Homo sapiens: one gene and its partners. The protein of the gene in region 1 purifies or fractionates together with the protein of each later gene. This does not show direct contact. Each region holds a gene or a part of one and is shown in the gene's direction. Other genes may lie near its edges. The genes, in order: FXYD1, THNSL1, NDRG3 and ATP6V1D.

Evidence for each region.
Region 2: the proteins of FXYD1 (region 1) and THNSL1 purify together in Homo sapiens (affinity purification with mass spectrometry; 2 studies listed by BioGRID and IntAct, with this or other methods). This does not show direct contact.
Region 3: the proteins of FXYD1 (region 1) and NDRG3 purify together in Homo sapiens (affinity purification with mass spectrometry; 2 studies listed by BioGRID and IntAct, with this or other methods). This does not show direct contact.
Region 4: the proteins of FXYD1 (region 1) and ATP6V1D purify together in Homo sapiens (affinity purification with mass spectrometry; 2 studies listed by BioGRID and IntAct, with this or other methods). This does not show direct contact.

What each region holds. Positions count from the first base shown.
Region 1 is NC_000019.10:35,134,276-35,141,826, forward strand, and holds the start of FXYD1 (phospholemman precursor), read left to right. Parts: upstream 1-4,548; 5' UTR 4,549-4,619; intron 4,620-4,859; exon of another isoform or gene 4,860-4,957; intron 4,958-5,146; exon of another isoform or gene 5,147-5,313; intron 5,314-5,358; exon of another isoform or gene 5,359-5,492; intron 5,493-5,643; exon of another isoform or gene 5,644-5,750; coding exon of another isoform or gene 5,751-5,804; coding exon 5,805-5,865; intron 5,866-6,321; coding exon 6,322-6,354; intron 6,355-6,856; coding exon 6,857-6,931; intron 6,932-7,260; coding exon 7,261-7,297; intron 7,298-7,551. Other genes in the region: LGI4 (leucine-rich repeat LGI family member 4 precursor), read right to left, coding at 236-405. UniProt on the Homo sapiens protein: Associates with and regulates the activity of the sodium/potassium-transporting ATPase (NKA) which transports Na(+) out of the cell and K(+) into the cell. Inhibits NKA activity in its unphosphorylated state and stimulates activity when phosphorylated.
Region 2 is NC_000010.11:25,019,590-25,026,612, forward strand, and holds part of THNSL1 (threonine synthase-like 1), read left to right. Parts: intron 1-2,152; 5' UTR 2,153-2,319; intron 2,320-3,586; 5' UTR 3,587-3,634; coding exon 3,635-5,866; 3' UTR 5,867-7,023.
Region 3 is NC_000020.11:36,743,074-36,750,391, reverse strand, and holds the start of NDRG3 (protein NDRG3), read left to right. Parts: upstream 1-4,301; 5' UTR 4,302-4,347; exon of another isoform or gene 4,348-4,893; intron 4,894-7,318.
Region 4 is NC_000014.9:67,342,797-67,349,819, reverse strand, and holds part of ATP6V1D (V-type proton ATPase subunit D), read left to right. Parts: intron 1-715; coding exon 716-783; intron 784-2,366; coding exon 2,367-2,411; intron 2,412-3,948; coding exon 3,949-4,052; intron 4,053-6,381; coding exon 6,382-6,448; intron 6,449-7,023. UniProt on the Homo sapiens protein: Subunit of the V1 complex of vacuolar(H+)-ATPase (V-ATPase), a multisubunit enzyme composed of a peripheral complex (V1) that hydrolyzes ATP and a membrane integral complex (V0) that translocates protons.

The sequences.
Region 1 (7,551 bases):
ACAGCACTCAACCCTCCTCCTGGGCCCCAAATGCTGTCCCTGCCCTCTGGGGTTTCCTTCTGCTCCTTCCCAGATGCCAGCACCCCTCTTCAAGGCATCCCGACAGGCTTTGCTGCCCATCTCCTGAGATCCTGATGGGCCCCTGTTTCCCTGGAGACCCGGCACCACATCCCAACCTCTGGGGTCCCAGGACTTCCGTCCCCACCTTCGGGCATGCAGAAGGCTGGACACTCACAGTGACAGCAGGGTCGGAGAGAAGCTGACGGGCAGGTCCGGGGAGCCCTCACACAGGGCGCTGTCTTTAGAGCAGGAGCAGCGCAGGGGACACTTTCCCTTTGGGGGTCTCCAGGCCACCACCACCCCCGCCCCAGCCAGCAGCAGCAGCAGAATGCCTGCCCCTCCCATGCCCCCACCCCCACTCTGAGGCACCCGCTTCTCCCGGCCCACCCAGCTCAGCCCAGGCCACTACGTCTCCTCCTCCACCAGGCCGCCCTCCATCCGCCTGCTGGCACGCTCGGCCCTGGCTTCTCTCTCCTCTTCTCCGTCTTTCTTTCAGTCGGCCTTCCTCCCTGTTCGTATGTCTTTGGTGTCTAATTTTCTGTTTCTCTTTCTCCCTGTCTTTCTGTCTCTGTATTTTTGACTCTGTGTGTTAGTCTGTTTCTATTTCTGTCTTTGTCTCTCTTTCTGCCTGTTTCTTTTTTTCTGTGTTGCTGTCAGTCTTTCAGGCTTTAGGTAGCTGTCTATCTGTTGGTCTCTATGTGTGTGAGTGTATGTGAGTGTGTGTGTGTCCTGCTGCCTGGTGTCTTGATTTCTTGTCTCCTGCCCCCCCCACCCCCCCTTCCAGCTCCCTGCCTGTAGTTTCTTTGCCTCCTCCCACCTCCCTTCTCCCCGAAGGTTTGGGAAAGGGGTTCGCTGGACACCCGGCACACCCGGCAGAGTAGGATGGGAAGGAGGAGGGGGTCAGAGGCCATGAGAAGGTCGGCCTTGGGGGAAGGGACTGGACAGCCCCACAGGAGGGGGAGGGGCCACCAAGGGCTGGAGCCGCCCCACCACTCCCGCCAGCCCCCTCCCCAGATTCCCCACTCAACCCTATTGGGGGAGCAGGAGGACGATGTCACCAGGGTGGGGACCAGATGGCTCTGCATTCTGGAGCAGGGTGGGAGGAGAGGCCCTGGGGGGGCTGGGGACATCCCGTCCTGGCCACTCTCTGCCAGCCCCCTCCCCTGGCTACAGGAGGGTGTGTTGGGCGCTGTCAGTGGGGCCAGATCACGTCCAGCTGCTCCCTCTGGTGGTCATACTCGGCAGGACCTCTGCCCGGCCCCAAGCCCTTAGCCTCCCTCCCCTACCCTGAAATTAACCCTCTAGTGGCCAACACCCACTGGGGGACAGCACCAACCCGAGGACATGATGATGATGAAGATGATGATGATGGTGAAGATGATGATGATGATGCCACCCCTTCTTCAGCGTCTACTCTGAGCCTGGCCTTGTCCTAAAAGCTCATCTATTAACTCATTCTGATCTTGCCAAAGCCCTCTGAAGTTAGTGCTGTCATCATCACCACTTTACAGCTGGAGGAAGTGGAGACAGAGGTCAGGGAACCTGAACTCTAGGTTACCCAGCTGAGGGCACAGCCGGGATTCAAACCCAGGCATCCGGCTCCAGGTTATTTTGCATTCTTTCTTTGGAGATCAGAGTTCATGGATAGATGGATAATTGGTTGTTTTAATCTGGACTAAATTTTAGTCATTTGGATAGATTCTGTCCACTAAATAAGAAACATAAGTAAATGACACTTGTTAGCTAAGATGAAATAGTAGTAATGTTTATACTCACTCAGCCTTCACAGCCACCCTGTGAGATGGGCAGTACTGCTATCCCTGCTTTACAGATGGGGAAACTGAGGCACAGGGAAGTTATGTGATTAGTTTCCTGGCTCTAGTCAGCTCTAAACCTAACCCCTAGGCTGTACCACCTCATCGCCTGGGGACGAGACTCATCCTGTGATTGAGGAATGCATGCAGCCTCTCTTGACACTGACGCCCACGCCCAGAAGCCTCGTTGGAGGATAAGGGGGCTTAACAGCTTGGAGGTCATGCAGATCTGGGTTCCAGGCCCAGTCCTGTGTGGCCTCAGTTTTCCCATCTGTCAAACGGGGACAATCGTGGCACCCGCTTCCCAGTTGTGGAGAGGACTCAGGTGATGGAGGCAACTCATCCTTTTGGGGTTCAGCACAAGGTGGGCATCCCACAGTGGTCGGCAAGCTTGGGGGTGGGCTCCGGATCCAGCTCCTAGAGGAGCAGACCCCAGCAGCTTGTGGTTTGAGCCATGCCCGTCAGCTCTCAGTTTCCTTCACTGACTATTGGGTATGATAAACAGGGTCCCTGAAAGTGAAGTTGGAGAGCTGAGTGCCAGGGGCACAGAGGGATCTGAACCCACTCTCATAGGGTGCCCAGCCCAGCAGTCCAGTTCACAAGGAGGAGGATGACAAGGACAATAATAATAGGCCAGGCACGGTGGCTCATTTCTGTAATCCCACATTTTGGCAGGCTGAAGTGGGAGGATCGCTTGGGGCCAGGAGTTCAAGACAAGCCTGGGCAACATAGAGAAACCCCGACTGTACAAAAAATTAAAAAATTAGCCAGGCATGGTGTCGCACGCCCATAGTCCCAGCTACTCAGGAAGCTGAGGTGGGAGAATCACTTGAGCCCATGAGGTTGAGGCTACAGTGAGCTATGATTGTGCCATTGCACTTCAGCCTGGGTGACAGAGCAAGACCCGGTCTCAAACAAACAAACAAAAAATGAAGTTAATCATAAGACAATGTCAAGTTCAGAGACCTCTGAGCCCTGTCCAGGATTATACACGTGATCTTAGTGATTTTTCCATTTTGGAGCATGTGAAAATGAGGCACAGAGCTGCTCAAGTTCACACAACCAGGAGTGCAGTGCCTGGGCCATTCCAGGTTTCCCTGTCACCAGGACCTGTAAACCTGGCCTGCCCATGGGGACGCCAGGTGTGTTGTCCCCGACAAGAGCTCAGGGGAAGGAAAGTGTGGGGTTAAATACATATCTGTGGTTTTGGAATGTGTGAACATGCAAGTGTGTCAGCCTGCGCATCTGTCACCGTGGCCAACCATGTGCCTGTTTGCTCAAGCATAGGGTGTGAACCAGTGTGTGTGTTTCTGCTTTTGTGGGTATGTGTGAGAGCGGCGGGTTGTCCTTGATGGTGTTTCTGCTTGTGTATCTGTGCCCATGGAAATCTGTCTGTGTGTACACAAGCTTGTTGGCCTTCCTATCTTTGGGACCATGTAGGAGTGCTGGCTGCATGTCTGTACCTTTGGGGTTTTTTTGTTTTGTTTTTGTTTTTGAGACAGAGTCTCGCTCTGTTGCCCAGGCTAGAGTGCAGTGGCATGATCTCAGCTCACTGCAAGCTCTGCCTCCCGGGCTCAAGTGACTCTCCTGCCTCAGCCTCCGGAGTAGCCGTGATTACAGGCGCACGCCACCACACCCAGCTAATTTTTGTATATTTTTTTAGTAGAGACGAGCTCTCGTCGGGTTGGCCAGGCTGGTGTTGAACTCCTGGCCTCAAGTGATCCTCCCGCCTTGGCCTCCCAAAGTGCTGGGAGTACAGGTGTGAGCCACCGTACCTGGCCATGTTTGGCCATGCATCTTAGAATGCATTTATGTGCGGTGTGCACATACTTGTGTGTTTCTGTATGGCCATTTGTGGGTGGGTCTTCACATAAACATGCATTTTTGTGGCCAGTTTGTGAGTGTAGATGGTGATGTGGCTATGTCTTTGACTGTATCTCTGTGTGGCCATCCATCTACATGAGCGTGCGTGGGTCTGTGTAGACATAAATGTGCTTGTTCTGGTATTTTGTGACTGGCATAAAAGGTGTTGGCTGTGTGTCCGGGTCTTTGGGTTTCTCTATCAGTGTGTCATTCTGTGTGTGTCTGCTTCTATGGATGTACATACATACATGGTTTTGTCTGGTTTTGTACCTGTATATCTGGGTCTTTGGGATTGTGTGTGGGTGTGTGTGTGTGGTGCATTTCTGGGGATCTCACCACAGCAGATAGCGCACATGCGCGCGCACACACACACACACACACACACCTCCCTCCCGTCCTCTAAAACAGCCCTGTTAAGGACCTCACGGAGCACTGGGATCGGGGGTCAGTGGGCTCCTGGGCAGTCAGGCTGGGTGACCTTCGGCCCTGGCTGGACCCAGTTCCCAGGGGGCAGCCGCCTCAGCCCAAAAGCTCTTGGAGGCGTGTGTGTTTGTGTGTGTGTGTGTTCACAACCCTGTCCTCCACAATCCTCCTAGCCTCTCCAGCCTGCCTGCTGGCTGCCTGCTGCTGCTCTCTCTGAACTGAGAGAGTTAACCAAGCGGGCCAGGGCAGTCTGGGCTGGGGGCCGCCCCCTGGCCCCCCTCCAGCCCCAGCTCCAGTTTCAGCTGCTGGTTGGGGAGGGCATGGGTGGGGTGGGGCTGGGAGGGGAGGCTGCTGGGGGCGGCGCGTCCAGCTCTGGGCCAGGGGGTCCAAAGTGCTCAGCCCCCGGGGCACAGCAGGACGTTTGGGGGCCTTCTTTCAGCAGGGGACAGCCCGATTGGGGTGAGCGTCCCCCACTCCTTCCCTCCAGGCCTCACCCCTGGTCTGGCTGGGCCGCCTATTTTGGGAGCAGGAGTGGCCAGCCCGAGGCTTCCCAGGCAGGCCAACCCAAGAGGGAGGGAGTGTGGTTGAGGCAGTGGGTTCTGCAGGGTGGGATGTGGGTGACTCCTCCCTGCCCTGCTGGTGCGTGTGCACCCTGGCAGGGTGTGGAGTTGGGACACACACGTGTGTAGGGCTGGTTGCGTCACTGCGTGGGGGCACCGGAGGCCCAGAGGAGGAGTATTGGATGCCTGACGGTGTTTACACCCCACGTCCTGCTCCAACCAGCAGTTTGGGGAGAGGTTGTTGTTCATGTCCATTCCGGCCCCACTGTGTGTGTGTGTGTGTGTGTGTGTGTGTGTGTGTGTGTGTATCCCTGCCCCAGCATGTGTTTTCTATCTCTAAGGCCCACTGGGCTGGGCCTCATGTCACTTGCCTGACATCCGATTGTGAAAGATGTCACCCAGAGGCGGGCAGAGGGGCTGTCTTTTCCTTTTCTCGTTGCTGCCCAGGGAGGAGACGGGGTGACCTTTCCCACAGGGGCAGCCTGTGGCGATGTGGCAGCTGGGCCTCACCCCGGCAGGGCTGTGCGTGACCCCCTGAGTGGGGGAAGGCAGGCTGTTGCCATGGTGGCCTGAGCGAGCAGAATTCCTCCAGGGTGAAGTGGGAGATATTTATACCCGGGGTCAGGCCGCGAGCGGGCGGGCGGAGAGGGCAGGGAGCTGGGATTTCGCGGGGCACAGTGAGGCCGGGCATGTAGGCAGGTGGGACTTGGGCGTGCCCTGCTGTCTCCTGCTCTGTGTTTGTGTGAGGCAGCGCCTCCTCTGCCCTGCCAGGGTAGGTCTGGGAATCGGGGGCCTGCTGCGGGAGGTGGAGGCCCAAGGGAGGCCCCCCGGGGACTGTGTGTCTCACCCCCGTCCCTGCTACGTTGTGTTGTTGTGTGATCCCATCGTGGAGGTTGTTTTGGTGACACTGTGTCCCCACGAAGCTGGGGATACCCGTTTCTCTAGCTTGGAGCCACCAAGATAGAGGACAAACACTTCTGTGATTCAGTCCCCAGACTGTCTCTGACTTAATCCCTTGGGTTCAAGCCCTATGTGGGAGAGCAAGGGCACACACTGCCTAATCCGTGGTGTCCCCCCCAGGACAATGGCGTCTCTTGGCCACATCTTGGTTTTCTGTGTGGGTCTCCTCACCATGGCCAAGGCAGGTGAGTGCAGGGGAGGCTGCCCGCTACCCACCTCAGCCCCAGGGGTGGCGGTGGGGACCGAAGAACCAAGTTGGAGACCCCAACCTAGACTAAGTCGGCTGGGGTACCAAGAAGTTTGGGGGTCTCCACGTGGGGTCCAGTCACAGGCTGGTATTTGGGGGAGGGGAGAGGAAGCCCCAGATCAGGCAAAGATGGGGTGGGATGGGGCTGAATCCCCGATGGGATAACTGGGTCACAGACAGCCTGCCGTGAGTCAGGGAGCTGGGGCAGTTAGGTGCCACCTGCCCCATCTGGGACAGTGCAGAGGGGGCAGCTGGGACCCAGAGAGTGTGGGCAGCCTGCCCAGACACCCTCAGACTCTAAGCCCAGCAAGGCAGAGCCTCCAGTGGTCTCCTCATGCCCCTCCCTGCCAGGACCCCAGGAAGCATTCAACCCCTGATTTCTCTCTCTTTCCAGAAAGTCCAAAGGAACACGACCCGTTCACTTACGGTGAGCGGGGGGTCTAATTTTGAGTCCTGGGGGAGAGCCTGGCTTTGCTGGTCCTTTGATTCCCCCTCGCCCTCCCCCAGAGTCCCAGTATTGATATCTCTGTCATTCTCCTTCCCTCTATTTTGTCCTTCCTCTCTGATTCCACCTGTCTGCATCTTTTCCTGTCTGTGTCTATCTGTGTCACTGTCTATGTGATACCTCTCTGGTTCTCTTTCTCTTGCCTGCGTCTGTCTCAGCATCTCGTGGCCCATCCTCTGCTTCTTCCCGTCTTCTCTCCCCCCTGTCCTCCTCCTCCCTGTCCCCTCCCTCCCTTTCCTATACACCCCTTTCCTCTCCCTGGTACCCCACTTTCCTCCTCCCATATCTGCTCCCCCTTAATTATCTTACTTCCCCCCTTCTGCCTGCTGGTCCTTTCTCCCTGTTCCCTCCTTCCCAATTTACCCCTCTCCTATTCTCCCTCCTGTCTTCCCTGCCCTCACCTTCCCTGCTCTGCTGCTCACAGACTACCAGTCCCTGCAGATCGGAGGCCTCGTCATCGCCGGGATCCTCTTCATCCTGGGCATCCTCATCGTGCTGAGTGAGTGCCCCTAGCTCCCGCCCTCTACCCCGCCTCTCCCTGGCCCCACCTCTCTCTGGCCCCGCCTCTCCCTGGCCCCGCCTCTCCCTAGCCCCCCTCTCCCTGGCCCCGCTTCTCCCTGGTCCCGCCCCTCCCTGGCCCCGCCCCGCCCCAACCCCTCCCAGGCCTTGCCCCGCCTACCCTGCCTTGGTTCCCCGGCCCCCGGTCTCGCCTCTAGCCCCGCCCCGTCCCCCAAGCCCCGCCCCTCGCGAGGGCGAGCTGGAGCTACAGCGCCGCTTGGCGCCCGCCGGGAGGGAGCCTCAGCTTCTCCTACCTCTCCACGCCCACAGGCAGAAGATGCCGGTGCAAGTTCAACCAGCAGCAGAGGTAAGACGCCCCTCCCCGCCCTCCTTCGCCCGCTCCTGCTCTGGAGGGCGCCGCGGGTGAGGCGGGGAGTACCCCTGACCCGCAGCCCGATCCCCGTCAGCGACTATGTATTAAGCACCTACTATGTGCCATGGCCCAAGCCTGGCCCTGGGACCAAGCGAGGAAAAAACCTCCCGCCCTTCCTGGCCGAGCTCCCAGCCTAGTGGAGGCGGTGGCCGTGGGTTCCAACAGCCCCACAGATAGAAAAATCACAA
Region 2 (7,023 bases), on another chromosome or scaffold:
TCAGAGATTAAGGTATACAGGAGGATGTGCACAGGTTATATGCAAATACTACACCATTTTATATAAAGGACTTGCACATCTGCAGATTTTTCTCACTCTAAAGTCAGTCCTATTAACTGCTAATTATCCAATATCCCTCTCAATGCTTAATCCAAATAATTGTTAAACACATGAAAGAGAAGAGTGTCAAGACCAAAAGCCTTGGAGTGCACTACCAGAAATTTCCCTCTATTCAACAGAACCATTTTTATGATCATTCAACAATATCCTCAAATCTTTTTTTTCCATTTCTCCGTGAATTAAAAAAATTTTAAATGAACCATGTGTAATGCTTTGGTGAAGTCCATATATATGCCTTCTATGTATATTCCCGAGTGGCCATTGCAGCAGACGTTCTCAAAAAAGAAATGAGGATGTCTTTTCCTCATTTGGTTGGTTAAAAAATGTTGAGCCCCTAAAATCAATTTGTGGTTAAATGTTACAAAATAAAATTTAGTATGTAGCTTAAAATAGAATATATCTTTATTGTTCTTTAGAAATAATATATATTATAGCACTTAACTGCCTTCTGCTAGTCTAAGGAACATGTTTGTGGGAAATAATATTGATACAGAATTTACAAATTGAACTGTCATAATTTTCTTTAAAATATATCTATATCTATATCTATATCTATATCTATATCTATATATATCTACCCCAAAGTCTTGAAAAAGGGAAGTGAAGTAAAATTTAAAAACAAGAGGGTAGAGGGGAACTAACATATAGGAAAAGTAAGATTGCAAAACATAAGGTGAAGGTAACATAATGTTTCCTTACAATCTACTTTTAATGAAGTTGATGTTAAGCATGGTAGCAAGCAATATAAAGCGGAAGAAAAGATGAAAGATTTACTGGGCCAGTATGGTGGTTCATGCCTCTAATCCCAGCACTTTGGGAGGCCAAAGTGGGAGGATTGCTTGAGTTCAGGAGTTCGAGATCAGTCTGGGCAACATGGTGAAACCCTGTCTCTAGAAAACCTACAAAAATTAGCTGGGTGTGGTGATGCACACCTGGTGGGAGGATCACCTGAGCCCAGGAGGTTGAGGCTGCAGTGAGCTGAGATCATGCCACTGCACTCCAGCCTGGGTGACAGTGGAAGACCCTTTCTCAAAAAAAAAAAAAAAATTACTGCTCATGAAAACCATCTACTCAGATTATATACAATTATTACTAATACAGGTATCAGAAAGTTATGTATTGCAAACTCAAAAAGAAGAAACTGTAATGTTACAAGCAAAAGCTTCCTGAATAGGAGGTTAATCAGACTGTTTTATGTAAGTGCCCTAAAAGCAGTTTGTGCTTTTAAAGTCCAGTACCAGAATATGGTTTAATAAAATAAATTGATGTTATGGTTCAAGTATATAATTCTTTCTGGTCCCTGGTTTACTTCAGGGAAAGGATTAGACTGTGCATGGCAAAACAGTTCTTGATTCGTGGGTGAACACCACGGTATTCTCTGAAGGTTTATAAACCAAACCATAAAAAAAATGCACCCTGCCTTGTACCTACATATTTGGGTTCAATTTATATATTCCTAGCCCACTGTCAGTGAGTGACAATGATTAATCTTACTGTAAATATTTTGTGCTAACCACTATGATATGTGCTTTGATTTTATTATAGACACTTATATAGCTAAGAGGTATCTTTTTGTGGCAAGAGTTTTATTTGGGCTTTTTATAGTGGATATTATTACATATGAATATATAGTGATTTTGATAGATAATATAGCCTAAAAAACAACTCAGACACTAATTTCATAGCTTTAGTCTGCTGACTTTTTCCCCTCTGATCATTATACAGCCAAATCATTAAAATTCCAGATATCCTTCTGAAAAGTTTTATATTTGTTATTATTTGGTTTTTTATTGCTTGATGGTAGAAATTCCTTCAGTACTGTTTAGTGAAATTCTTTTTATAATGAGACACACATGTTTAAAAACAGTATTTTAATCTTCTAATAACAGATTTGGGGAAACATATGAAAAGGGTCAATTTTTCTGTATTTTTAAAATTTCAGATGAGCTTTTCAAATAATAGACTAGTCTATGTGTAGAATTTTATGATACTCTATACAGTTATGATTAACTTAAATTTTTTTCCATTATAGACTCCACGTTTTGCAAAGATCGGTTTTGCCTCAGAGTCAACAAACTCTTCAGATTGGTTCCGGTGTGTCCTATGTTTACAAGTCAGTGGAAATTAAGCACAACACATATAAATTGAAAAGTCAAATAAGGAAATGAATTACCTCCCTTGACGGCTCTAATTTTACTTGTAAGTTAAATTCAGAGTTAGCTTAAAATCATTTAAATGTTTAATTACAGAACAGAGTTTAAGTAGCATAGAAAGTCAGTATTACATGATTAAAAGTTTTCAGAACATATTTTAACATATGATCTAGTATTTAATATGGTTTAGTTGCATATTGCTTCTACCAGAGAACACGTGATAAGCCCCACTATGTGTCTGTGACATTACTTCAGGCAATTTACATGAACATTGCACAGGTATTATACTGCATTTTACGTAACTAAAAACTTGACTTGTCTGGCATACATTTTTGTTTTAATGGTGAGTATATTTCCAAAGACAAGGACTTGGTCAATATGGGAAATTATAGAGCTTCTTTGGATGCCAGAATAATTGTTGTCTCTCATCATTGGAAACATTCCTGAGGTTCTTGGCTGTGGCCCTGGGGTCTGGAAATTGAGTTAAATCTCTCCACTGATGATTATAGGGTTAGAAACAAAAGTGATGGTTCTGTGCAGATAAGGTTATATGTAGCCTTTGACCTCATTGCTGATTATTAATTTTTCTTAACTATTTGTATAATATACCTTTCACCTTGGCTCTTTTTAAAGCCTTCAATATGAATAATATGTAACAATGATTCTTAATATGCGTGTAAAAGGCACATAAGAAAGAAAATGTCATACCTTTGTCCTGTAGTTTGGAAAACTAAGCATTTTATAAGCAAATATGTTCTTTTATTCTGGTTTCCTGTTATGACTTCTATAAGAAATTTATGAGTAATATAGTCTGTCACAATGTTCATATAACTGAAGAGAAATTAAATATAAAGAATATTGTTCAACTTTTGTGAATTGCAAGTAGATAGCACTCCAACTCCAAATCATCTTTATATGTGATATAAACTGATAAACCATGAAATAATTTTCATTAAAAGATCTCAATATGAAAAGAAATAGTAATTTGATTTAGTGTATATATACTTTTAAAAGCATCTACAATCTGGCACTTTGTGAATACAAGTTTCTGTTTTTTATAGTTACAAATTTTGTCAAAGTTTTGATTTTTCAGTGTCTTGAGATTTTAAAAGATATCATTAAAAGGATAATATGCAATATATAAGAATTTGGGTTGGAATACTTTTTTTAATTCCATAAGTTTGGAAGATTTTTAAACAGTTTATGTACCATGGGCATGGTTATATTCAGTCCTATTGGGATTTTAACAATCTACTGTAATTAGTAACCAAATTATCTTTTGTTGTTTTTTGTTTGTTTTGTGTTTTGAAAAGGGCTAAAGCCAATTTTTAGGTTGGCTTGGGCAGAAAAGTGAAAAGAGAATGCTCCACTTTAACCGATGTCATCATCTGAAAAAGATAACACAGAAATGTTTTTCTAGTATACATGTTAAAACGGATAAACATGCACAGCGATTTCTTTCAAGAACCTTTGCACTTGCGGAATTGAGGAAGTCATGGTATTCAACCCACTCTCTTGTTGGAGACAAAAATATTATCCTGATGGGACCTCCTGGTGCTGGGAAAACAACAGTAGGCAGAATAATAGGTCAGAAACTAGGTTGTTGTGTCATAGATGTGGATGATGATATCCTTGAAAAAACCTGGAATATGAGTGTGTCTGAAAAATTACAGGATGTTGGTAATGAGCAATTTTTAGAAGAGGAAGGAAAAGCTGTGTTAAACTTCTCTGCATCTGGAAGTGTGATTTCCCTTACTGGGTCCAATCCAATGCATGATGCTAGCATGTGGCATCTGAAGAAAAATGGAATAATTGTATACCTGGATGTACCTCTACTAGATCTAATTTGTCGTCTAAAATTAATGAAGACAGATAGGATTGTAGGTCAGAATTCTGGAACATCTATGAAAGACTTACTTAAATTTAGAAGACAGTATTATAAGAAGTGGTATGATGCTCGTGTTTTCTGTGAAAGTGGGGCTTCCCCAGAGGAGGTAGCTGACAAAGTGCTGAATGCAATTAAAAGATACCAAGATGTGGACTCGGAAACATTCATTTCAACAAGACACGTTTGGCCTGAAGACTGTGAACAGAAGGTTTCAGCAAAATTCTTTAGTGAAGCTGTAATTGAGGGGTTGGCTTCTGATGGTGGCCTCTTTGTTCCTGCAAAGGAGTTTCCAAAATTAAGCTGCGGGGAGTGGAAAAGCCTAGTAGGAGCAACCTACGTAGAAAGAGCACAGATACTGTTGGAAAGATGTATCCATCCTGCAGACATACCTGCTGCCAGGTTGGGAGAAATGATTGAAACTGCTTATGGGGAAAACTTTGCCTGCTCAAAAATTGCTCCTGTCAGGCACCTTTCAGGCAACCAGTTCATCCTGGAGTTGTTTCATGGACCAACAGGATCATTTAAAGATTTGTCTTTACAGCTTATGCCTCATATTTTTGCACACTGTATCCCACCAAGTTGCAATTATATGATACTTGTAGCTACTTCAGGAGACACAGGGAGTGCAGTCTTAAATGGTTTTAGTCGTCTAAATAAGAATGATAAGCAAAGGATAGCTGTGGTTGCATTTTTTCCTGAGAATGGAGTAAGTGATTTTCAAAAAGCACAAATAATTGGCAGTCAGAGAGAAAATGGATGGGCAGTGGGTGTTGAGTCAGATTTTGATTTTTGCCAGACAGCTATAAAAAGAATTTTTAATGATTCTGATTTTACTGGCTTTCTTACTGTGGAATATGGAACAATCTTAAGTTCGGCTAACTCCATAAACTGGGGCCGACTACTTCCGCAGGTAGTTTATCATGCTTCCGCATATCTTGATCTTGTTAGTCAAGGATTTATTTCTTTTGGAAGCCCAGTCGATGTCTGTATTCCCACAGGAAACTTTGGTAACATTTTAGCAGCAGTGTATGCCAAAATGATGGGAATCCCGATTCGAAAATTTATCTGTGCCTCTAATCAGAACCATGTTTTGACTGATTTTATAAAAACAGGACATTATGATCTAAGGGAAAGAAAACTAGCACAAACCTTTTCACCGTCAATAGATATTCTCAAATCTTCAAACCTAGAACGACATTTACACTTGATGGCTAATAAAGATGGACAGCTAATGACAGAATTATTTAATCGATTAGAAAGTCAGCATCATTTCCAGATAGAAAAGGCTCTAGTTGAGAAACTTCAGCAGGATTTTGTAGCTGACTGGTGCTCTGAGGGAGAGTGCCTAGCAGCTATTAACTCCACCTATAATACTTCAGGGTATATTTTGGATCCACACACTGCTGTTGCAAAAGTGGTTGCAGATAGGGTGCAAGACAAAACTTGCCCTGTGATTATCTCATCTACAGCCCATTACTCAAAGTTTGCACCTGCTATCATGCAGGCTTTAAAGATTAAAGAAATCAATGAGACTTCATCAAGTCAGCTCTATTTGCTGGGTTCATACAATGCATTACCTCCACTGCATGAGGCTTTATTAGAGAGAACAAAACAGCAAGAGAAGATGGAGTACCAGGTCTGTGCAGCTGATATGAATGTCTTGAAGAGTCATGTGGAACAACTTGTCCAAAATCAATTCATATGAAAGCTTTCAGAGTAAATTTTTTTTTCTAGCTATAAGCATGCAATAATAAATCTCAAACACTGATTTGGAGTACAGTAGCATTTTGTCTTTTATGTAAATATCTCTATATCTGTTTGGAATTTCAAAAGTCTGATCTCTAGGGCTGACATGAGAACTCCATGTCACCTCCTCAGATCTTTAATCTGGAAGTGACAAAAGGTAACACAGTGCACGGACCTTTGAGCTATCATACTTTTGCCTTCTGCTCATGAGGGGTGTATCAATTTCCACTCCCACACCCTCACTGTTATGTGGACCAAAATGTCTGGTATACTATTTGGCGATTAAAATATTTAAGCCCAGTTTTCAGGTACTACATCTGTAACTAGTGAATACTCTGTTGATTAGAAAGTTAATTTACCACTCAAAATGGCTAACTTGAATGGAGGAAGTAGTAAACTCTTCTATTAGGATTTGGGCCAGTGTTTTTTGTTTGTTTTTTGGTGCAGTTTCAGCTCACTGCAACCTCCGCCTCCCAGGTTCAAGTGATTCTCCTGCCTCAGCCTCCCAGGTAGCTGGGATTACAGGCATGCAACACCACACATGGCTAATTTTTTTATTTTTAATAGAGATGAGGTTTCGCCATGTTTTCCAGGCTGATCTTGAACCTCTGACCTCAGGTGATCCATCCACCTCGGCCTCCCAAAGTGCTAGGATTACAGGCGTGAGCCTCTGCACCTGGCTAGGGCCAGTGTTTTTAACCCTCCTCAAATTCCATTTTGGACTACAACTAATGTGTATCTCACACTGTCCAAATTAAAGATGTACTCTGTCCTTCACTCTCCTTTGGATGTGTACGGTTAGGGTGACGATGTTTGAAAATCAACACATAACTGAAATCCAGGATGAAACAGTAAGCAGAACTACTTAGAAGTGAATACAGAAATGATCTATTTCAAGAGGAAGGTTTTCCAAAATTAAGAGTACTTGAGTAGTCTCAATAGGAGTGTATTTGTAGACAGCAGTTTCCCTATATTATTTGGAGTCAATTCTTACGTAATTTGTTGTTTATTTCTTCAGTGAACATTGTCTTTTTCTGGCAGCTGAAACTGCACACAACTGATACACATATTTAATTTGTATTCCTTTGTAGTAATACATTTTAACCATGATTTATG
Region 3 (7,318 bases), on another chromosome or scaffold:
AGTGCCATGGCATGCTCATGGCTCACTGGACCCTCAACCTCCTGAGCTCAAGCAATTCTTCCACCTCAGCCTCCCAAACAGCTGGGACTACAGGTGTGCACCACCACATCTGACTAATTTTTGTTTTGTTTTGTTTGAGACAGAGTCTCCCTCTGTTGCCCAGGCTGGAGTGCAGTGGTGCCATTTTGGCTCACTGCAACCTCTGCCTCCCGGATTTAAGTGATTCTTCTGCCTCAGCCTTGCGAGTAGCTGGGATTCCACACATGCACCACCACACCTGGCTAATTTTTGTATTTTTAGTAGAGATGGGGTTTCACCATGTTGGCCAGGCTGGTCTTGAACTCCTGACCTTAGGTGATCCACCCAACTTAGCCTCCCAAAGTGCTGGGATTACAGGCGTGAGCCACCGTGCCTGGCCTAACTTCTGTACTTTCGTAGGAATGCGGTTTCTCCATGTTGCCCAGGCTGGTCTCAAACTGGACTCAAGATATACACCCACCTCAGCCTCCCAAAATGCTGAGATTACAAGTGTGAGCCACTGTGCTCAGCCAAAATAAAATGTTTCTTATTCTCTGATCCCACTAAAGGGACAAATCCCATTTCAGTTAAACACCCAGTCATAATCTTAAGTCTTAAACCTTGGCGCAAGTGCCAGTTAATGAGAAATGACATCTCCTTGCTTGGACCTACATTTGTTCTTTATTCCTTTATATATTTACCGAGTACCCGCCATATGCCACACACAGTTCTAGGATTGGAGGAGGGAGCAAAGAGCAAAAACACATGGGTTCTCTCTCATGATGCTCAGTTTGCTGACGATACAAGGAACAAGAGAAAACTCTGCAGAAGAGATATTTTAGCTGACATGGGAAAGATGAAGGAGTTAAATGGGGCAAGTATTTCAGGCAAAAGGAGAAGCAATTTTCAAAGGCTTGAGGAGGACAGTGGAGCATGCTGGGACACTTAAAAAAAAAAAAAAGAATAAAGCAGGAGTGCTGGGCACCAGTAGAAGACTGGCCTGAGACAAGTATAATTGAAAGTCATTAGAAGGCTTCAAGAAAGGGCGAGAAGATCAGAACTTTATTTTTAAAAGAGTACTCTAGTTGTGGTGTGGGGAAAAGATAGCAAGGTATGGGTGTGGGAGACCAGTTAGGTTATTGCAGGAGTCTAGGAGAGAAATGACAGCTTGTGCTGGGTGTTGGCAGTGGATGAGTGGGGTGGGACTGCTCGTGTTGCCCACAGTGGCTAGAACATAGGCATGTAACCTAGGTGTTAAAAACCTAACTCTAGCCAGGCATGGTGGCTCATGCCTGTAATCCCAGCACTTTGGGAGGCTGAGGTGGGTGGGTCACCTGAGGTCAGGACCAGCCTGGCCAACATGGTGAAACCCCATCTCTACAAAAATACAAAAATTAGCCAAGCATGATGGCAGGTGCCTGTAATCCCAACTACTCAGGAGGCTGAGGTGGGAGAATTGCTGGAACCCGGGAGGGGGTGAAAGTTGTAGTGAGCCGAGATTGTGCCACTGCATTCCAGTCTGGATGACAGAGCAAGACTCTGTCTCAAAAAGAAAAAACCCCTAACTCTGCCATTTATTAACTGTGACTGAAAAATTTATTTAATCTCTTATCTCGAAGGTTGAGAGAATTATAGAACCTATATCACAGGGATGCTGTAAGAATTAAATAATATAAAAGTTTAGCGGTATCAGTATGCTGCAGGAGGTGAAGCCTGAACAGTGGGTAGATGATGGAGCAATTTGAGATGGGAAAGCTCGTTCTATTTGGAATACCAAATGGAGAAATCAACTGGTCTGTCAAATAACACAGGTGGAGAACTGGGTGGAGAAATCGAGACTGGAAATAACATTTGAGAGTTGCTGATGTCTAGTTCTTGATGACTTGAGAATGAATGATATAGTCCACAGTAGAGCAAGAAGGGAAAGTTTGGATGGTCTCATGGAAATCCAACATTTAAGAATCAGAGCAGAGCGGGACACAGTGGCTCATGCCTATAATCCCAGAACTTTGGGAGGCCTAGGCAGGAGGATTGCTTGAGTCCAAGAGTTCTAGACCAGCCTGAGCAACATGGTGAGACCCTCGTCTATATCTATCTCTATCTGTATCTCAAGAATCAGAGAAATGCTCTTAATTGCCTACTCTTTCATAAACAAAGTAGTACAATGGAGAGAGTTGGAGTGAATTTTCCTTTTTCTTTTTTTTTTTTGAGACGGAGTCTCGCTCTGTTGCCCAAGCTGGAGTGCAGCAGCGCAATCTCGGCTCACTGCAAGCTCTGCCTCCCGGGTTCACACCATTCTCCTGCCTCAGCCTCCCGAGTAGCTGGGATTACAGGCACCCGCCACTACGCCCAGCTAATTTTTGTATTTTTAGTAGAGACGGGGTTTCACCTTGTTAGCCAGGATGGTCTCGATTTCCTGACCTCATGATCTGCCCGCCTCAGCCTCCCAAAGTTCTGGGATTACAGGCGTGAGCCACTGCGCCCGGCCATGAATTTTCATTTTATCCTCAATTTCCTCATCTGTAAAATGGGGACAGATTATCTCTCTAAAGATGATTATACCCTCCCCCTTTTTATTTATTACATTGTATTGCATTTTTTGCTTATAAGGATTTCTTCAAACTCAAGAAGTATGTTTTGTGTCTTCAACAGTAAAATACGATAGAACAAAGAAAAATAATACTTACTGAGCTCTAAGCATTTTACATGCATATTATCATTCAGTCTTTGCCACAACCTTGTAACTTCTATTTCTGGGTGTGTGACATAGATGAGGAATTCGGGCATGGAGAGGTGTGGAGAGACTTAATTGTCTAACCAAGGACATAGGGATAAATAGTGGATGGTGAACTAGAACTAATTTGAATTCAGTAAATGTTAACGAACATAAACCATAAAATAAATGGCTGTGCTCAATTAATGTTAGTTTTCCTTCCAACTAAATTCAGTTCAAGAATTGTGCTTGATGAATAACAATATTATTGCTGCCCTCTGAGATGTTTGGTAATATTCATTTGTTCAGTTTGCCTTAATTAAAAGAATATGCTTTTAGTGGCCGGGCGTGGTGGCTCACACCTGTAATCCCAGCACTTTGGGACGCAGAAGCAGGCGGATTGCTTGAGGTCAGGAGTTTGAGACCAGCTTGGCCAACATGGTGAAACCCCATCTCTACTAAAAAAAAAAAAATACAAAAATTACCCAGGCATGGTGGCGCCCGCCTCTAGTCCCAGCTACTTGGGAGGCTGAGGGACTTGGGAACCTGAGCCGAGATGGCGACACTGGCTCGGGTTAAAAGGGCGTGGTGGCTCACACACCTGTAATCCCAGCACTTTGGGAGGCCGAGGCGGGCAGATGACGAGGTCAAGAGATCGAGACCATCCTGGCCAACACGGTGAAAACCCGTCTCTACTAATAATAGAAAAATTAGCCAGGCCCGGTGGCACACGCCTACAGTGCCAGCTACTCGGGAGGCTGAGGCAGGAGAATCGCTTGAACCCAGGAGGCAGAGGTTGCAGTGAGCCGAGATCGCGCTAGTGCACTCCAGCCTGGCGACAGAGTGAGACTCCGTCTCAAAAAACAAAACAAAACAAAACAAAAAAACTTTTAGTCAGTGGTACTTAATGGTAAAGAAATAATAGATAATAAATAGAGGAAGAGTGTGTCCTGTACATTTTGGTGTTAAATTGTTGGGTCATTAAGTTTAATATCTGCAATCATTCTGGGAAAAAAAATTCCATCTCTAATGTTGCATTCAAGAAAGTAGATGATTTGGCTGACGGTTGTAATAGGGGTGATACAATGGAGGACTGGTAATTCGGAGCCCTGAGTCTTGGACTCTAGTTCTTAAATTACTATGTTCATTCACCAAAAATTTACTAAGCTCTTTCCACGTGCCGAGCACTGTGCTAGGCGCCCTGTGACCTTGGGTATGGCTCTAGGTCACCTTAAAAGGAGGATGCCATACCCTGCAAGAGCTCTTAGGGGCTTCATAAGGATGCGACTCAGGGAACTGAGGGAAGCGCTCCAGACGCAGAGCTCAATGGCCCTGCCGCCCAGCGCCTCCAAAATCTGAGATTCTTCTCTGAGGAAACTCCGCAGCAAGAAAAACTACATCAAAGATGGCGCCGCCGGCCTCTCCTGGCTCAGCCACCATCTTCTCGGTAGTTCCCGAGGTGGACGGGCACAGCACTCATGCGCCGCCCTGGCGTCCTCGGCGCGCCTGCGCGGACCGCAGCACCTCCCCCGCCCCTCTCGCCGCCGCCGCCGCCGCCGCCGCCGCCGCCGCCGCCGCCGCTGCTGCTGCACTGACGGCGGGTGCCCGCGCCTCAGGTGAGTGAGCGCCTCCGCCCGGCCCGCGGGGGGCGCGCGGCGCCGCATTCGGGGGCGTCGCTCCTTTGCCCTGCTCCTTCCCCGCATCATCTCCGCGGCACGGCGAGGCCCTGGTGGCCCGTGCTGCTTGCCTCCCCCGTGCCCCCGGGGCCCTCTGCCCCGCCCCGCCCGCCCGCCGGACCCAGGTCAGCCCGGCTTTCCTCGGCCGCTCCCCGCGCCCAGCCCGCCGGCGACAGCGTGTGGGTAGCAAGAGAGCCTCCCTCCGGGCTCAACACCCTGGGTCACAGGGACGCCCCCCGCAGGCGCGAACCCTTCTCTCGCTCTGGCTCTGCAGGCGGCAGAGCTTGGTGGGCCTTGGGGTTGCTCATCCATCTACCTCGCCCGCTCCAAGAGCCCAGATGCTTGGAAGAGGGGCCGTGAGCAGCCCTTGCACCCGTCCGGCCCCAGAGCAGCAGAGGGCATCCTCTAACGGGACCCTACGACTACCCTACCGGGGAGAGGCTTCTTAGCCCCACTTAACAGCCGAGGAAACTGAGGCACGGAAAGGTGAAGTGCCATGCCCAAGGTCACGCAGCTGACAAGTGGCAGGGTCAGCTCTCAACTCAGGGTCTCGGGCTCTCAGGCCAGTGCGGTTGGAATTTGATCTCGTACCTTTGAAAAAATTTTGAAATCACTTGTCATCTCTGAAGTTGCTCTCGAACGTCGTAAAAGTAGGCTGCACAAAAAAGATTTTCTTGTTGTCGGAGTACAATTGAGGTGTTACTGTAATAATAATAGTGTTATTAATATAAGAGCTAACGTTCTTCCACCGCTCGCTGTGTGCCAGGGATCTTGCTAAGCATTTTATTAAGATAACCTCGCATAACCACCTCTGCACTTCCCAATCCAAATGCTTCCCCCTTCCTTGTCATGAAGCCCTTTTTTTCTTCCTGCAGAGCTGGCCTCCCTATCACAGGTAGACTAGGAGCCCCGTGGATTAGGAAGCAGGGAAGCTTTCCTTTGGTGGCTTACTGACAGAACAAGAGTGATCCTTGCCTGCTGGCATCCAGATCACCCCCGCCGCGCCCCCCCCCCCCCTTACCCTGGCCCTCAGGGGATATTATTAGCCTTCCTTTCCTGCCAAGAGAGCAGGACTGGGCTGACTGGGCTAGCTGGGCGGGCTGGACTTGGAGGTGACAGAGCAGATTTGGCTAGCACTCACCTCATTCCGGGGCTTTCTGTCCGAGGCTTTCTGCCTTTGCCCCAAGGTTGGGCTTGAACATTTCAGTATTTAAGATAAAGCAAGAAGAGAAAGAGAACATTGATAGAGTGGTGCTGAATTTAAGAAGCCTCCCATGATTTAAAGTTCCAAATGAACAGCTATAAAAATATGTGAATGTTTCTCCCCCAAAATAACTAGCTCAAACTGTCGTTTTTCTCCCTTAGCAAATCCTCCTCCACATTTCAAAGGCTCCACTAAATCACCACCTTCTCTGTGAAGCCTTCCCTGCTTGATTTTCCCAATTAGAATTACACGTTCACAAAACAGGGTCTTAGCCTCAGTCTTACCCTGCGGACTTCTAGCCCCTTGAGGGCATGGTCCATCTTTGCAGCTCCAGATGCCTGGCTCACAGTAGATCCTTGGTAAGGACTCAGTTAATTTCCACCCCCCCTTTTCATTACTCAAAGCGTGGTGTTCTTCTGGTGCCCTTCTGTTCCTCCTTCCTGCCCTTCAGTTTCTCTTTGCTTGTCTCTTCCTTCAGATTAAACTTGTCATCACCATTTACCACTCAAAGGCCTCCATCCACCCTGTTGTTTTTGAAAACTTGCAGATAAGAGTCTTGCATCAAAAAGCCTGTTTATGGACCGGGCGCTGCGGCTCACGCCTGTAATCCCAGCACTTTGGGAGGCCGAGGTGGGTGGATCACGAGTTCGGGAGATGGAGACCATCCTGGCTAATACGGGGAAACCCCGTCTGTACTAAAAAATAACAGAAAATTAGCCGCGTGTGGTGGTGGGCGCCTGTAGTCCCAGCTACTCGGGAGGCTGAGGCAGGAGAATGGCGTGAACCCGGGAGCTGGAGCTTGCAGTGAGCCGAGATCGCGCCACTGCACTCCAGCCTGGGCAACAGAGCTCCGTCTCAAAAAAAAAAAAAAAAAAAAAGCTTGTTTATGTTACTTGAACGTGCACTCACGATTGAGCTGCTTTTGTTTTTTGTTTGTTTTTTGTTTGTTTTTGTTTGTTTTTTGAGACGGAGTCTCGCTCTGTTGCCCAGGCTGGAGTACAGTGGCGCCATCTCGGCTCACTGCAAGCTCCGCCTCCCAGATTCACGCCATTCTCCTGCCTCAGCCTCCTGAGCAGCTGGGACTACAGGTGCTCGCCACCACCCCCAGCTAATTTTTTTTGTATTTTTTTAGTAGAGACAGGGTTTCACCGTGTTAGCCAGGATGGTCTCGATTTCCTGACCTCGTGATCCGCCTGCCTCGGCCTCCCATAGTGCTGGGATTACAGGCGTGAGCCACCAAGCCAGGCCGAGCTGCTTTTGTTTTATTATTATTATTATTATTTTTTGAGACGGAGTTTCGCTCTTGTTGCCCAGGCTGGAGTGCAGTGGCGCAATCTCGGCTCACTGCAACCTCCGCATCCTGGGTTCAAGCGATTTTCCTGCCTCAGCCACCCAAGTAGCTGGAATTACAGGCGCCCGCCACCATGCCCAGCTATTTTTTGTATTTTTAGTGGAGACGGATTTTCACCATGTTGGCCAAGCTGGTCTTGAATTCCTGACCTCAGGTGATCCGCCTGCCTCTGCCTCCCAAAGTGGTGGGATTACAGGCGTGAGCCTCCGAGCCCGGCTGCTTTTGTTTTATTCTAAATTGTTACTTCTGAGCAGGGAAAAATGCCTGTTTACAGTGGAGTTGGTATATGCTATTTCGATGTACAGGGTACTTTTCATTTGCATGTTGCAGTAGGATAGTCTGAGGCTTATACCCCT
Region 4 (7,023 bases), on another chromosome or scaffold:
TTGCATTGAATTTTCTAGCAGAGGGTGGAGATCAATCAATAGTGTATAAGTGGTATGTGAGTGTTTTAGGGTGGTTATGGGGAAGATACTTTCTATAATATTTATTTTTGTTTTGTTTTGAGATTGGGTTATGAGACTGGCTAATTTTTGTATTTTTGAGTTTCACCACATTGCCCAGGCTGGTTTTGAACTCCTGGCCTCAAACAATCCTCCTGCCTCGGCCTCCCAAAGTGCCAGGATTACAGGCGTGAGCTATCGCACCCTGCCAGGAAGGCACTTTCTGGTAACATTTGAGAAGTCACACAAAGCCAGATGGAACATAGTTTCCAGGGTAAAGGAATTGAACGCCAGCTTAACCAATTCAATAGCAAACCTAGAAAGGAGTTTTCTCTATCTCACACTAGCAGAAGAATCCTTAAAGTTATATCCATGTAGCACACCTCTGACTGAAAACATAAGCAATCCACGAACTTTAAAATCATTCTTTGTTCTTTTCTTACTGCTAATGTTTTGAATATTGTTCATTCTCTGCTTTCAGAGGCCCTCCTCTAGCAGTAATGACTTTTCTCCCTTTTTGGAAAAAGGACAGTTATCAAAACATACTTAATTGTGACATCTCACTCTTGGTCTCATTTAATGTTAAAACTATCCAGTGGGTCCCTGTAGGTTTATTTCTGAAGAGTCTGCTAAATAAAGTCTTTCTCTTTTTCTGCAGCACTACAGTTATCCAAAATGTCAATAAAGCGCAAGTGAAGATTCGAGCGAAGAAAGATAATGTAGCAGGTAACGTTTCAACCTTTTAGAAACCCTTTGGGGAGAAAAGAGGTGACATTTTAAAATTAACCTGTTTATACAGCAAGATCTTAATGTCCTAGTTTCTTCCTTCTACTTAGAACAAGTTGATTGGCTTTACATGTTAAAATCATTAACAACCAGGTTTCTAATTACTCAGGATAACTTGACTTTTGTATAGAAGTGAACACTTAAGAAGGCAGGTTCCGGCTGGGCACGGTGGCTCATGCCTGTAATCCCAGCACTTTGGGAGGCCGAGGTGGGCGAATCACAAGGTCAGGAGTTCGAGACCAGCCTGGCCAACATGGTGAAACCCCATCTCTACTAATAATACAAAAATTAGCCAGGTTTGGTGGCACGCGCCTGTAGCCCCAGCTACTTGGGAGGCTGAGGCAGGAGAATCGCTTGAACCCGGGAAGCGGAGGTTCCAGTGAGCCGAGATTGCACCACTGCACTCCAGCCTGGGTGACAGAGCAAGACTCTGTCTAAAAATAAAAAATAAAAAAATAAAGAAGTCAGGTTCCACTGGATGTGGTGGCTCACACCTGTAATCCCAGCACTTTGGGAGGCTGAGGTGGGCGGATCACAAGGTCAGGAGTTCGAGACCAGCCTGGCCAACATGGTGAAACCCCATCTTTACCAAAGAATACAAAAATTAGGCCGGGTGTGATGGCTCACACCTGTAATCCCAGTGCTTTGGGAAGCCAAGGTGGGCGGATCGCCTGAGGTCGGGAGTTCGAGACCAGCCTAATATGGAGAAATCCTGTCTCTACTAAAAATACAAAATAAGCCAGACGTGGTAGCGCATGCCTGTAATCCCAGCTACTTGAGAGGCTGAGGCAGGAGACTCACTTGGACCCAGGAGGCAGAGGTTGTGGTGAGCCGAGATTGCGCCATTGTACTCCAGCCCAGGCAACAAGAGCGAAACTCATCTTTAAAAAAAAAAAAAAATTAGCTGGGCATGGCATGTGCCTGTTGTCCCAGCTACTCAGGAGGCTGAGGTGGGAGAATCACTTGACCCCAGGAGGCGGTGGTTGCAGTGAGCTGAAGACCACACCACTGCACTGCAGCCTGGGCGACAGAGTGAGACTCTGTCTCAAAAAAAAAAAAAGAAGGCAAGTTCCTAAATTCATTAATTGAAACCAATTACAATTCCATACTTAAGCTCTTGATTTTTGAGTTTGATGAAAAAGAAACACAGAAAACAGTGATTAAGAAACAGAATTTAGGCCAGGCGCGGTGGCTCATACCTGTAATCCCAGCACTTTGGGAGGTTTAGGCGGGTGGATCACCTGAGGTCGGAAGTTCAAGACCAACCTTACCAACATGGAGAAACCCCGTGTCTACTAAAAATACAAAATTAGCCGGGTGTGGTGGTGCATGCCTGTAATCCCACCTATTCAGGAGGCTGACCAGGAGAATTGCTTGAACCTGGGAGGCAGAGGTTGCGGTGAGGCGAGATCACGCCATTGCATTCCAGCCTCGGCGACAAGAGCAAAACTCCGTCTCAGAAAAAAAAAAAAAAGAGAGAACTTAAAGGTTTATGAATCCATGTATGCTTCTGTGTTTAACAGGTGTTACTTTGCCAGTATTTGAACATTACCATGAAGGAACTGACAGTAAGTGTGAAACTTTTTGTATTACTTTGTGTCTCTGGGATTTCCTGTTTCCTCTTTAAATGAACTAAGTTCTGGAAAATGGTGCTAGATGTTGAGAGGTTCCTGAGTTAGAAATCCTCTTATTTGATATAGTCAGGACAATAGTTGATCAGTTAATCAAAAGGTCTTAAGGCCGGGCACAATGGCTCATGCCTGTAATACTGGCACTTTGGGAGGCTGAGGCAGGCAAATCTCCATCTCTACAAAAAATATAAAAAATCAGCCAGGTGTGGTGGCACGTGCCTGTAGTTTCAGCTACTTCCAGGGCTGAGGAGGGAGGATTGCTTGAGCTGGGGAGGTAGTTGCAGCGAGTTCTGATCACGCCACTGCACTCCAGCCTGGGCTACAGAGCAAAACCTTGTCTCAAAAAAGAAAAAGGTCTTATGCTAGGAAGTCATAAAACATTATACATATCTTAAAATATTTCAATATTTTATCAGAAATATATCAATGTAGAATCACTTGCTATTTAAAAAATATAAGGCCTTTTGAATATGAATTCACTGATTAGACTTCTGTGTTGTTTTTCTGCATATCCTACACCCACAATGCACTGCTTATAATTCCCAGTTTGGGTCTCTTTAAAGTCAAATAAGATCTTAGACACTGATGCAACCTGAATGCTGATTCTTTCTAGATTTTTATAGCCCACTTCCACTTTTTAAATAACTGTCTTATTCATTCCATTCCTAGTTTGACAGCATATTTTCTTTCCAAAGTAAAGTATTAACTTTTTTCATAGAAACAATATTCTTGGCCAGGCACAGTGGCTCACACCTGCAATCCCAGCACTTTGGGAGGCTGAGGCAGGTGGATCACCTTAGCCCAGGAGTTTGAGACCAGCCTGGGCAACATGGTGAAACCCCGTCTCCACCCAAAAAGTTACAAAAATTAGCTGGGCCTGGTGGCATGCGCCTGTGGTCCCAGCTACTCGGGAGGCCGAGGTGGGAGGATTGCTTGAGCCTGAGAAGTGGAGCTTACAGTGAGCTGAGATCGCACCACTGCACTCCAGCCTGGGTGGCAGAGTGAGACCCCATCTCAATAAATAAATAAACAAATAATATTCTTTCTTTTGGCACTTGTATTTCCTTGCTTCATGTGATATTTAATTAAATCATATAGAATATTAAGTACATTTCATACGAAGAAGTAGAGCATTCTAGAGAGAGTCACCTGTTCACAGAGTGTCATCGTACTCTGGGCATCAGGCAGTATGATTTTCAAAGGGAATAAGGGGCATCAAGCTAGTGAAGTGAAGGTTGGTTAAAAGCTTCCTTTGTAGTTATATTTAGAATAGTATTCTTGTGGGAAACTGTATTTAGTAGCATGCTCCTATAGTGTTTGGGGAGTGAGATAGGCACTTCATGTTTACATTCAATGAAGATTAGTGAATTCATCTTTCCATATTTGTTATTATTCTGAATTATCTCCTTTTGGGGAATTTTATAGGGAAGATATTTTACTCTAATTAAAAATGTTGTCTGACTGGTCCTTTCAGGTTATGAACTGACTGGTTTAGCCAGAGGTGGGGAACAGTTGGCTAAATTAAAGAGGAATTATGCCAAAGCAGTGGAACTACTGGTGGAACTAGCTTCTCTGCAGGTAAGTAGCAAAAGACCTGGAGAACTCCTGTAGTTTGATTTGTAACAGTCAAGTGGAGGAGAGTCAGGTCTTGAGTCAGCATATACTGTGCTTTGTACTTTTAACTGTTCCCATGATCCTATGTAAAGCAAACATAATATTTTGATTTCTGAAGTGATGGCTTTTGTACCATTGTCCCTACTTTTTAAAATTTATGTATTTTTTATTTTTTTGAGATGGAGTTTTACTCTTGTTGCCCAGGCTGGAGTGCAATGGCGCGACCTCGGCTCACTGCAACCTCTGCCTCCTGGGTTCAAGTGATTCTTCTGCCTCAGCCTCCCAAGTAGCTGATTACAGACATGTGCCACCATGCCTGGCTAACTTTTGTATTTTTTGTAGAGACAGGGTTTTGCCATGTTTGTCAGGCTGGTCTCGAACTCCTGACTTCAGGTGATCCACCCGCCTCGGCCTCCCAAAGTGCTAGGATTACAGGCATGAGCCACTGCACCTGGCCCCTACTTTTAATTTAAAAATTTATTTATTTTTCGAAATGGGGTCTCACTGTGTCACCCAGGCTGGAGTGCAGTGGCATAATCCCAGCTCACTGCAACCTTAACCTCCTGGGCTTAAGTGATCCGCCCACCTCAGCCTCCTGAGTAGCTGGGACTATAGGCATGCCCCATCACACCTAGCTAATTTTTGTATTTTTTGTAGAGGTGGGGTTTCACCATGTCGTCCAGGCTGGTCTCGAACTCCTGGGCTCAAGTAATCAGCCCGCCTCATCCTTCCAAAGTGCTGGGATTATAGGTATGAGCCACCACACCCGGCCCCTGCTTCTTCTTGTTAACAAAATGTATGTGCTATGGTACACTCTTGTTTTTTTTGTTTGTTTGTTTGTTTTTTTCTTTGAGACAGAATCTTGCTCTGTTGCCCAGGCTGGAGTGCAGTGTTGCGATCTTGGCTAACTGCAGCCTGGATCTCCTGGGCTCAAGCAGTCTCCCGCCTCAGCCTCCCAAGTAGCTTGGACTACAAGTTTGTGCCACCTCGCCTGGATAATATTTTTGAATTTTTTAGTTGAGATGAGGTCTTGCTACGTTGCCCAGGCTGGTCTCAAACTCCTGGCCTCAAGAAATCCTGCCATCTCAGCCTCCCAAAGTGCTGGAATTATAAGTGTGAGCCACCTCACCCAGCCCAGTTTCACTCTTTGCTAAGTAAGAATAGCAAGTTGATACTAGATTTAAATGTAAATGTAAATAAACATCGTTTGTGCATGGAAGACCATTTTTTCCCCTATGTGGCCAGTTAGTATATATCTAGGTTATTAATGCTTGATTCTTTCTTGTCATTTTTATGTTGTTATTTAGGTGAGACTATAGTAAACAAATTATAATAGTGTCAACTCAAGTAAAGCCTGTTGAAGCAGAAATGATTTGATAAAGGTTTATTGAAAGCCAAATGTGAGGATTGACCCGGGAAGACACCAACAAAGTTGGGTGTGTTCTAGAGTCTGCTACAAGTTGGAAGGCTTTTATGGGAAAGTTTAGGAGAAGGGAGGACTCCTCATACCCAAGTTGTCCTTTTCATTGGCGAGTACAATACAGAGGTCACAATCATTGGCTACAGATTACAAATACAAGCTAAAATGTTCTACATGCAAGTAAATCATGAAGTAAAACTTCATGAATCAGAAACAAATCAGTGTCATTTTCAGCGTCAGTAGGTTGCATATTAATCAGTATGTCAGCAGTCTGAGAAACTTAAGATTTCCTTACTCAGGGACAGGATGTAAACCATGAATCATAAGATCCCTCAATCTGCCCAGGCAGGTTAATTTGGAAACCTACCAAATGTGACATGTAGGTTATCAATAGCATGGAAATAGTGTTAGCCCTATGGAAATCTCACAAGAATTTTGTTTTTGTTTTGTTATGAAGAGACAGGGTCTTACTCTGTCACCCAAGCTGGAGTACAGTGGCACAGTAATAGCTCACTGCAGCCTCAAACGATCCTCCCATCACAGATTACCAAGCAGCTGGGACTACAGGTGCATGCTACTACACCCAGCTAATTTTTAAAATTTATTTCTTGTAGAGGCAAGGTCTCATTGTGTTGCCCAGGCTGGTCTTGAACTCCCAACTTCAAGTGATTCTCCCACCTCAGCCTCCCAAAGTATTGGGGTTATAGGCGTGAGCCATGCGCCCAGCCTAAGAATTTTGTTTTTTAAGCATGCCAAAAAGAAGTTGTCTTGGTTCTCAAATGTTTTCTACAAGTGCAGTCTTAGTGGAGTCAAGTGATCAGGGAATGATTAGGAAGACTTTGTGCTTACATTATTAATTTGTTCTTATTTTAGACTTCTTTTGTTACTTTGGATGAAGCTATTAAGATAACCAACAGGCGTGTAAATGCCATTGAACATGGTGAGTATTAGGTACTGTGAGGTGCTTTGTCACTTGTCCATACCCTCCACTTGTCGTGAAACTGCTAGAATTCAGGGACTGTACTGAAGACTGAAAGATGAATAAGATGCTTCCCTTGCCCACAGTGCAAAGAGAGAAGTGTGTCCATAGTAAAAAAAAAAAGTGTTATGAAGTGTTCTGATAGAAGTACTTGTATGATCTGGGGGAGTTACACACATAGGAAAGTGGTGACTTAAAAATTATGGAATGTTTTCTTCATTTCCAGTTATTCATGCAGTTATTTAAGGGTAGGAATATTTCTCAAGATCCTTAGTGTTTTCTGTAGTTCTTTCTAATGGTTGAGTGATGCAACTTTTTGAGTACATTAAATATTTAACTTTAAATCAGTATAAGCCATTCTCCTTGATTTCTAAAAAATTTCCCATTTGATGCACTTATTTTCCATCTCTTTTATTTCACTATTTAAAAAATATGACTGCTTAGTGTTGATGGTACTTTTTGCTCAATAAACTTAGTTTTTATTAAAGAAACACTCAATTTTAGGTAAGAAAGCAAAATTTGAAGTAAAGAAATTC